Homo sapiens: one gene and its partner. The protein of the gene in region 1 interacts with the protein of each later gene in a pairwise test. Each region holds a gene or a part of one and is shown in the gene's direction. Other genes may lie near its edges.

Region 1 (4,463 bases):
TTGATTTCCTTGTATAGAGTAGATAGATTTTTCATCTCTGGCAAAATGTTGCCACTGTATATCCCTTTTCCTCTTGGATTTGATCTTAGAGTCACGTCTAAAATAGTTTCTACTTTAACTTTTTGGGAATTTGACTGTGGCATCACTTAAGAACTTATTTGCAAGAACGCTAGAGACCCACCCAGACATGAGTTGTGTTGATTACTTTATATGTGACCATTTTCATTGTTCTAGTTCTCTTATTCTTGATTGTAGGTGAAATCGCCATGCTTGGTGGTGTGGGAGAAGAGAATGAGAAACTGTGGAGCTTTACCAAAAAGGCCTCGCACATTCAGTTGGACAGGTAAAAGAGTTTGTGCCTTTTTGACTTACTTTTAAGCATTTAAACTATGTCTGCTTTTTTCCTCCCTCTGTTCAAGATTCTCATTAAGGGAGATAGAGAATATATATTTCAAGGTTTTCAGACCATGCGTGGTGGTTTACACCTGTAATCCCAGCACGTTGGGAGGCCAAGGCGGGTGGATTGCTTGAGGCCAGGAGTTTGAGACCAGCCTGGCCAACATGTTGAAACCCTGTCTCTACTAAAAATATAAAAATTAGACGGGCATGGACCTGTAATCCAGCTACTTGGGGAGGCTGAGACAGGAGAATTGCTTGAACCCAGGAGGCAGATGTTGCAGTGAGCCAAGTTTGTACCACTACACTCCAGCCTGGGCAACAGCAAGACTCCATCTCAAAATAAGTATAAAATAAAATAAAAAATTATCCGGGCATGGTGGCGTGCGCCTGTAAGTCCCAGCTACTCGAGAGGCTGAGGCAAGAGAGTCGCTTGAATCGGGGAGGTGGAGGTTGCAGTGAGCTGAGATCGCACCACAGCACTCCAGCCTAGGGGACAGAGTGAGACTCTGTCTGAAAAAAAAAAAAAAAAGCGTTTCACTGCCCATTACCACTGTTACTAATGAAATAGTTGTGATTATAATCCTTGGTATAGTATTACTACACATTTTTTCAATCCAATATATAAAAGAATTGTTAAATTTTAGAAATTATCAATGTATTGTTGAAATGGAGTCATATTCCAGTAAACCAGATCTTTTGGCTTAAACTGGACAGTTATGATCCTACCAATTTTCTGTCTTACTTATATTTATTTGAAAAGAGAATCTTTGTGTAACATCTTGCAAATCCCCTACTGCCATGAGAATTAATTACTGGGGGCTTCAGGATCTTTCAAGCATGTGACTGCTCTAAAATATTTCTTGTATTTTTTAACTCTCAGTTAGAGGTCTCATAACACATGAGCTTTGTTTCCTCAGCTTACCAGAAGTACCTTTACTGGTTGATGTGCCTTGTTTATCTGCTCAGTTGGATGACTCAATTCTTAACATAGTGAAAGACCACATTTTTAAGCATGGAACAGTAGCATCTCGCCCACCAGTACAGATAGAAGAACTAATAGAGAAACCTGGAGGCATCATTGTACGATGGTGTAAGGTATGTAATTCAGAATTCTAGAAATGACTTCCACATTATGGGTTTGCGATTTGGAGGCCTTTCAGATTTTTTCGTTGACTACTTTTAAATACATTCTTTTCTTCTCAAACAAAAATCTCTTTTACTTTACAGTTAAAATGAAGTCACATGGAACACTGAGGTAGCTCTTCCAGTTTTATTTTTATTTTATTTATTTATTTTTTGAGACAGAGTTTTGCTCTTTCACCGAGGCTGGAGTGAAGTGGCGTGATCTCGGCTTACTGCAACCTCCATGCCCTCCCCCGCCTGCCGCTTCCCCCGGGTTCAAGCCATTCTCCTGCTTCGGCCTCCTGAGTAGCTGGGATTATAGGCACCTGCCATCACACCTGCCTAATTTTTGTATTTTTTGTAGAGACGAGGTTTCACCATGTTGGCCAGGCTGTTCTTGAACTCCTGACCTCAGGTGACCCACTCGCCTCGGCCACCCAAAGTGCTGGGATTATAGGTGTGAGCCGCCGTGCCTGGCCTTTTTTTTTTAAATGAAGCCTTGCTGTGTCGCCCAGGCTGGAGTGCAGCGATGCAACCTCCGACCTCAGGTGATCTGCCCACCTTGGCCTCCCAAAGTGCTGGGATTACAGGTGTGAGCCACTCCGCCTGGCTGACATTTTCTTTTTTTTTTTTTTTGAGACAGAGTTTCGTTGTTGTTGTTCAGGCTGGAATACAATGGCACGATCTTGGCTCACCACAACCTCCGTCTCCCGGGTTCAAGCAATCCTCCTGCCTCAGCCTCCCAAGTAGCTGGGATTAAGGCATGCGCCACCACACCTGGCTAAGTTTGTATTTTTAGTATTTTTGTATTTTTAGTAGAGACAGAGTTTCTCCATGTTGGTCAGGTTGGTCTCAAACTCCCGACCTCAGGTGATCTGCCCACCTCGGCCTCCCAAAGTGCTGGGATTACAGGTGTGAGCCACTGTGCCCAGCTGAGATTTTATTAAAAGGAAATTTTTTTTTCTTTTTTTATAAACATGCTGTTGTTATTTTCTAACAGGACTGTCATTCCATTTTTATTATTTTTCCTATCAGTGGACCTAGTTATTTCCAGTTTTTTGCTATAAGTATTTTTACTTGTGTTTCTTTATGGACATATGTGAAGTTTGTAAAATATTAATATTTACCTAGGTGTAAAATTATGAGGTCTTCTTAGAGTATTGGATCCATACGCTGATAGGTAATAACAAACTTTCCACAAGATGATTCTATCAATTTAGCCTTCCAAGGAGTATATGAGTTTCTGTTATTCCATATCTTGACCAATAATTGGCATTGTGAGACTTTATATTTTTGCCTAAATGTACCTTGTTGTGGTTTTATTTATTTGTTTGTTTTTGAGACAGGGTCTCACTCTGTCACCCAGGCTGGAGTACAGTGGCACAATCATGTCTCCAGTCTCAATCTCCTGGGCTCAAGTGATCCTCCCGCCTCAGCCCCCAAGTAATTGGGACTTCAGGCATGTGCTTCCACAGCCAGCTAAGTTTTGTAATTTTTTGTAGAGATGGGGTTTTGCTGTGTTGCCTAGGCTGGCCTCAAATTCCTGGGCTCAAGTGCTCCACCCGCTTCGGCCTCTCAAAGTGTTAGGATTATAGGCATGAGCCATCATGTCTGGCCTTGTTGTGGTTTTAGATCGTATTTGCCATATTACAAATTAGGTACAAATTAGGTTGAATATTCATAATATACATTTTTGGCTATTTATGTTTCTTCTCCTGTAGAACGCTTATTTATGTCTTTTACCCATTTTTCTATTGGGTGGCTAATTAACATACAGAATATATGCAGGACCCCTAAAAATTAATGGGGGTTCTGTATACTGTATGTTAATTATCTCTTGGTTATTATGAATGATGTATGGTTGTGGGAGACTTACTGAATCTTGAATGTTTTATCTTTGGCATTGATTAAAAAACATGCCATTTCTTCAAAGGAGGCAGACTTTTTTATATCAGACTGGGAAATACAGAACACATGGTTCAATAAAGAAAAGAAGGGAGCCCAGGCGCAGTGTCTCACGCCTATAGTCCTAGCACTTTGAGAGGCTGAGACGAGAAGATTGCTTGAGCTCAGGAGTTAAAGATCTGAGATATGGTGAAGCCCAGTCTCTACAAAAAATACAAAAAATTAGCCGGACATGGTGGTGTGCACCTGAAATCCCAGCTACTTGTGGGGTGGAAGGAAGAGGATGGCTTGAACCCGGGGTGTGGAGGCTGCAATAAGCCGAGATCACGCCACTGCACTACAGCCTGGGTGACAAAGTGAGACCCTTTCTCAAAAAAAAAAGAAGGGAGATAATGATGTGATGGCATATTTTCTATGGCCTTCCCAAGAATACCCCATATTCAGCATGTGGGCCTGTCTGCTTGGTCCAAAATGGCTCCGTTCAAAATTTTTAAGCAGTGATGCTGAGAGAAGTCATTTTCTGTTTTTTACCTAACATAAAGCTTTTCTCCCTAGGTGGATGATGACTTTACAGCCCAAGATTACAGGCTCCAGTTTCGTAAATGTACTTCAAATCATTTTGAGGATGTATATGTAGGTTCTGAAACTGAATTCATAGTATTGCACATAGACCCCAACGTTGATTACCAGTTCAGAGTCTGCGCCCGAGGAGATGGCCGACAGGAGTGGAGTCCTTGGAGTGTCCCCCAGATAGGTCATTCCACATTGGTGCCTCATGGTATGCTGCTAACCTTTTCTCTCCTGAAGCCTAACTATATATTAGAATACCTGTATTCTGTGCTAAGGGCAGCACACTGACAACCAGCTATTCTAAGCATAGATCCTGAATTGATAAGAACAACATGCACCATGTCTTTTACTCAGATTACCTCATGTGATTTTTGTTTTCATCAGTTCTTCAGAGTCCAAAAAAAATGCTGGACAAGATTTTTAGCCTCATTGAAAACCAAAGATTGAAAATATTATGTAGGGCACTG
Region 2 (3,529 bases), on another chromosome or scaffold:
GCCTGAGAAACACAGTGAGACTCCATCTCTACTAAAAAAGAAATAAAAATAAAAATTAGTCAGGTTGGGTGGAGCATAGCTGTAGTCCCAGCTACTCGAAGGCTGAGTTGAAAGGCTCACTTGGAGCTTGAGGTCAAGGCTGCAGTGAGCTGATTGCACTACTGCACTCCAGCCTGGGTGACAGAGTGAGACCATGTGTCAAAAAAAAAGCCTTCTGAAGGGATAGAAGGAAAGTTATAGGTTTGAGATCCAATCATAGGCCATGTTTATTAATATAGAATAGAGTATTTATGGCTGGGCGAGGTGGCTCACGCCTGTAATCCCAGCACTTTGGGAGGCCAAAGCAGGCAGATCACAAGGTCAGGAGATCGAGACCTTCCTGGCCAACATGGTGAAACCCCGTCTCTACTAAAAATACAAAAATTAGCTGGGTCTGGTGGCACATGCCTGTAGTCCCAGCTACTCGGGAGGCTGAGGCAGGAGAATGGTGTGAACCCAGGAGGCGGAGCTTGCAGTGAGCCGAGATCATGCCACTGCACTCCAGCCTGGGCGACAGAGCGAGACTCTGTCTCAACAACAACAAAAGAAGGAATCTTGCTTCTCCCTTTAGAACCTGGAAATGTGTCGCATCTCTGAAAATGCTCTGATTTTGCATTTGCAGGTCCTAGAAATTCTTGTCCTTCCTCACTTTTTGTTCAGTACCTAAAATGCCTATACATTTTGTCAACTGGAGCTTTGAGCTAACATCCTAAATTTTAAGGGAGAACAAATATATGTACATTATGTTTGAGGTTTGTCAAGGTTGTGCTAAATGAATACCTCCCACATTTAGTTTAATTACTCTGTAAGTTATATTTAGAATAACAATATTAACCTCTGCTACATAGTTCTCTGTAAAGTACAAAAGCACATTCATATTCATTTTCTTATTTTCTTCACCAAAACCCGGTGGGGCAGTATAAACTCCATGCTGTCAATGACAAGAAAACAAATCCCAGAGGCTGATCTAAGCTAGCTAAGCGACAAAGCTTGATTTTAGAGTCAGGTCAAATCTGAAAATTATTCTTTCCACCATACCTTGCTGTTTGCTCAAAAATAAACAAGAACCAAGAAATAAGAACATCTAAATTATTTTATTAAGGGCAGAGGGGGAAGAAACCCACCAAACAAAGCAGTAATCCTTGATACCATGTTCACTATTATCATCTCATCAAGAGTAGAACACTCAAAAAGGCTCAGACAAGTAACATAAGAGTCATCAGGCCAGGTGCAGTGGCTCACTCCTGTAATCCCAGCACTTTGGGTGTTTGAGGCGGGTGGATCACCTGAGGTCAGGAGTTTGAGACCAGCCTTACCAACATGGTGAAACCCCGTCTCTACTAAAAATATAAAATTAGCCGGGTGTGGTGGCACATGCCTCTAATCCTAGCTACTTGGGAGGCTGAGGCAGGAGAATCATTTGAACCCAGGAGGCAGAGGTTGCAATGAGCCAAGATGGTACCATTGCACTCCAGCCTGGGCAACAAGAGCAAAATTCCGTCTCAAAAAAAAAAATTATGCAGAAAAATGGCAGTGAACTGTTTGTTCTGTAACCCGACATGACATTGACCCAGTTATGTTAGCTGGCACCAACAAATATCCTGAATAAAACAGAACTGACAGCAGCTGGGGGACCCACTGACTTAATTTAGTTAACACTGTTTTAGAAGTCGGTTAAGTAGACCAGGAGTGGTGGCTCATACCTGTAATCCCAGCACTTGGGAGGCTTTGCAAGGCCAAGGCGGACAGATCACTTGAGGCCAGGAGTTTGAGATCAGTCTGGCCAGTGTAGCGAAACCCTGTCTCTACTGAAAATACAAAAAGTTAGCTGGGCGTGGTGGTGCACACCTGTAATCCCAGCTACTCGGGAGGCTGAGGCAGGAGAGTCGCTTGAACCCGGGAGGCAGAGGTTGCAGTGAGCCGCTGCACTCCAGCCTGGGCAATGGGGTGAGACTGTGTCCCCAAAAAATTTTTAAAAAAGAGTTGAGTAAGTAGTTTAAGTTGAGTTGTTTTGTTTACTAATGAATATAACTTACAGGGATTATTTTCCCTATGTAACCTTTCATAGAAGCTAGAAATCAATTTTGTGTTATGGTGAAATTGAAGGTTAATGGAGGGCAGATTGAAGTGTTCCATAAACCCACTCTGTTTGATATTATTTCCAGGATATTTGGATGTTTCGAGCTCGACTTGTGAAAGGAGAAAGAACCAATCTTTGAAATAGCCATCTGCTATAACTCTTTCAACAGAAAACCAAAACCAAACGAAATGTCTAAGGAAAATGTTTTCTTAATGAGATGATGTAACCTTTTCTATCACTTGTTAAAAGCAGAAAACATGTATCAGGTACTTAATTGCATAGAGTTAGTTTTGCAGCACAATGGTGTTGCTTTAATGGAAAAAAAAAACAGTAAAAGTGAAATATTACTGTTTTAAGGAAAACTAATTTAGGGTGGCAGCCAATAAAGGTGGTTGGTGTCTAATTTAAGTGTTAAATCAATTTCTTTCATTCAGTTAGCTCTTTACCCAAGAAGAAGTGAATGATTTGGAGCTTAGGGTATGTTTTGTATCCCCTTTCTGATAAACCCATTCCCTACCAATTTTATGTCATAAGAGATTTTTTTCCCCCAAATCTAGAACAATGTATAATACATTCACATCTAGTCAAGGGCATAGGAACGGTGTCATGGAGTCCAAATAAAGTGGATATTCCTGCTCGGACAAGGGCTTTCTCCTGTGATTTCTTCAACCCAACCATTCCCTTAACAAGAAGACTTGTTCTTTCCAGTCCTTTCCTCTGTTCCTGAAGAATGAAGACAAGGGCCAGGTGCAGTGGCTCACGCCTGTAATCCTAGCACTTTGGGAGGCCGAGGTGGGTGGATCACCTGAGGTCAGGAGTTCAAGACCAGCCTGGCCAACATGGCAAAACCCCATCTCTCCAAAAATACAAAAAAAAAAAAAAAAAATAGCCGAGCGTGGTGGCATGCACCTGTAATCCCAGCTACTCAGGAGGCTGAGGCAGAAGAATTACTTGAACCTGGGAGGCAGAGGTTGCAGTGAGCTGAGATCACACCACTGCACTCCAGCTTGGGTGACAGAGCAAGACCCTGTCTCAAAAAAAAAAAAAAAGGAATGAAAAATAAATAAATAAAAAGAACGAAGATGAGGGTGACTTCATTTGATGTATCTTATTGGGTAGGGCTGCTGGAAACTTTCCACATTTATGAATGAAGCCTAACCTCCTTCAAGCTATAGGGAACTTTTTAGATACTTTTCCCTGGATTTGGAGTGAGCATGGACTGAACAAACTTATTTCAAGACAGCACCATATTTTCGGTACCAGCTGAGGGCAGCAAGGAGACATAGTCCTTATTTTTACAAATTTTAGTTAGGGCTTTAGTAAGAAAGAAATAACAGAGTACCTTTCTTGTCATTCTGCTAAGCACAAGTTTTCCTAAATCTAGTGTTGCCATGAGTGCCGTTTTGTTTG

The links.
Region 2: the proteins of CRLF3 (region 1) and PHYH interact in binary tests that used the Homo sapiens proteins (3 or more experiments, as listed by UniProt).

Annotation. Positions count from the first base shown.
Region 1 is NC_000017.11:30,793,191-30,797,653, reverse strand, and holds part of CRLF3 (cytokine receptor-like factor 3), read left to right. Parts: intron 1-255; coding exon 256-343; intron 344-1,316; coding exon 1,317-1,494; intron 1,495-3,981; coding exon 3,982-4,204; intron 4,205-4,463. UniProt on the Homo sapiens protein: May play a role in the negative regulation of cell cycle progression.
Region 2 is NC_000010.11:13,277,030-13,280,558, reverse strand, and holds the end of PHYH (phytanoyl-CoA dioxygenase, peroxisomal isoform a precursor), read left to right. Parts: intron 1-2,204; coding exon 2,205-2,258; 3' UTR 2,259-2,760; downstream 2,761-3,529. UniProt on the Homo sapiens protein: Catalyzes the 2-hydroxylation of not only racemic phytanoyl-CoA and the isomers of 3-methylhexadecanoyl-CoA, but also a variety of other mono-branched 3-methylacyl-CoA esters (with a chain length of at least seven carbon atoms) and straight-chain acyl-CoA esters (with a chain length longer than four carbon atoms).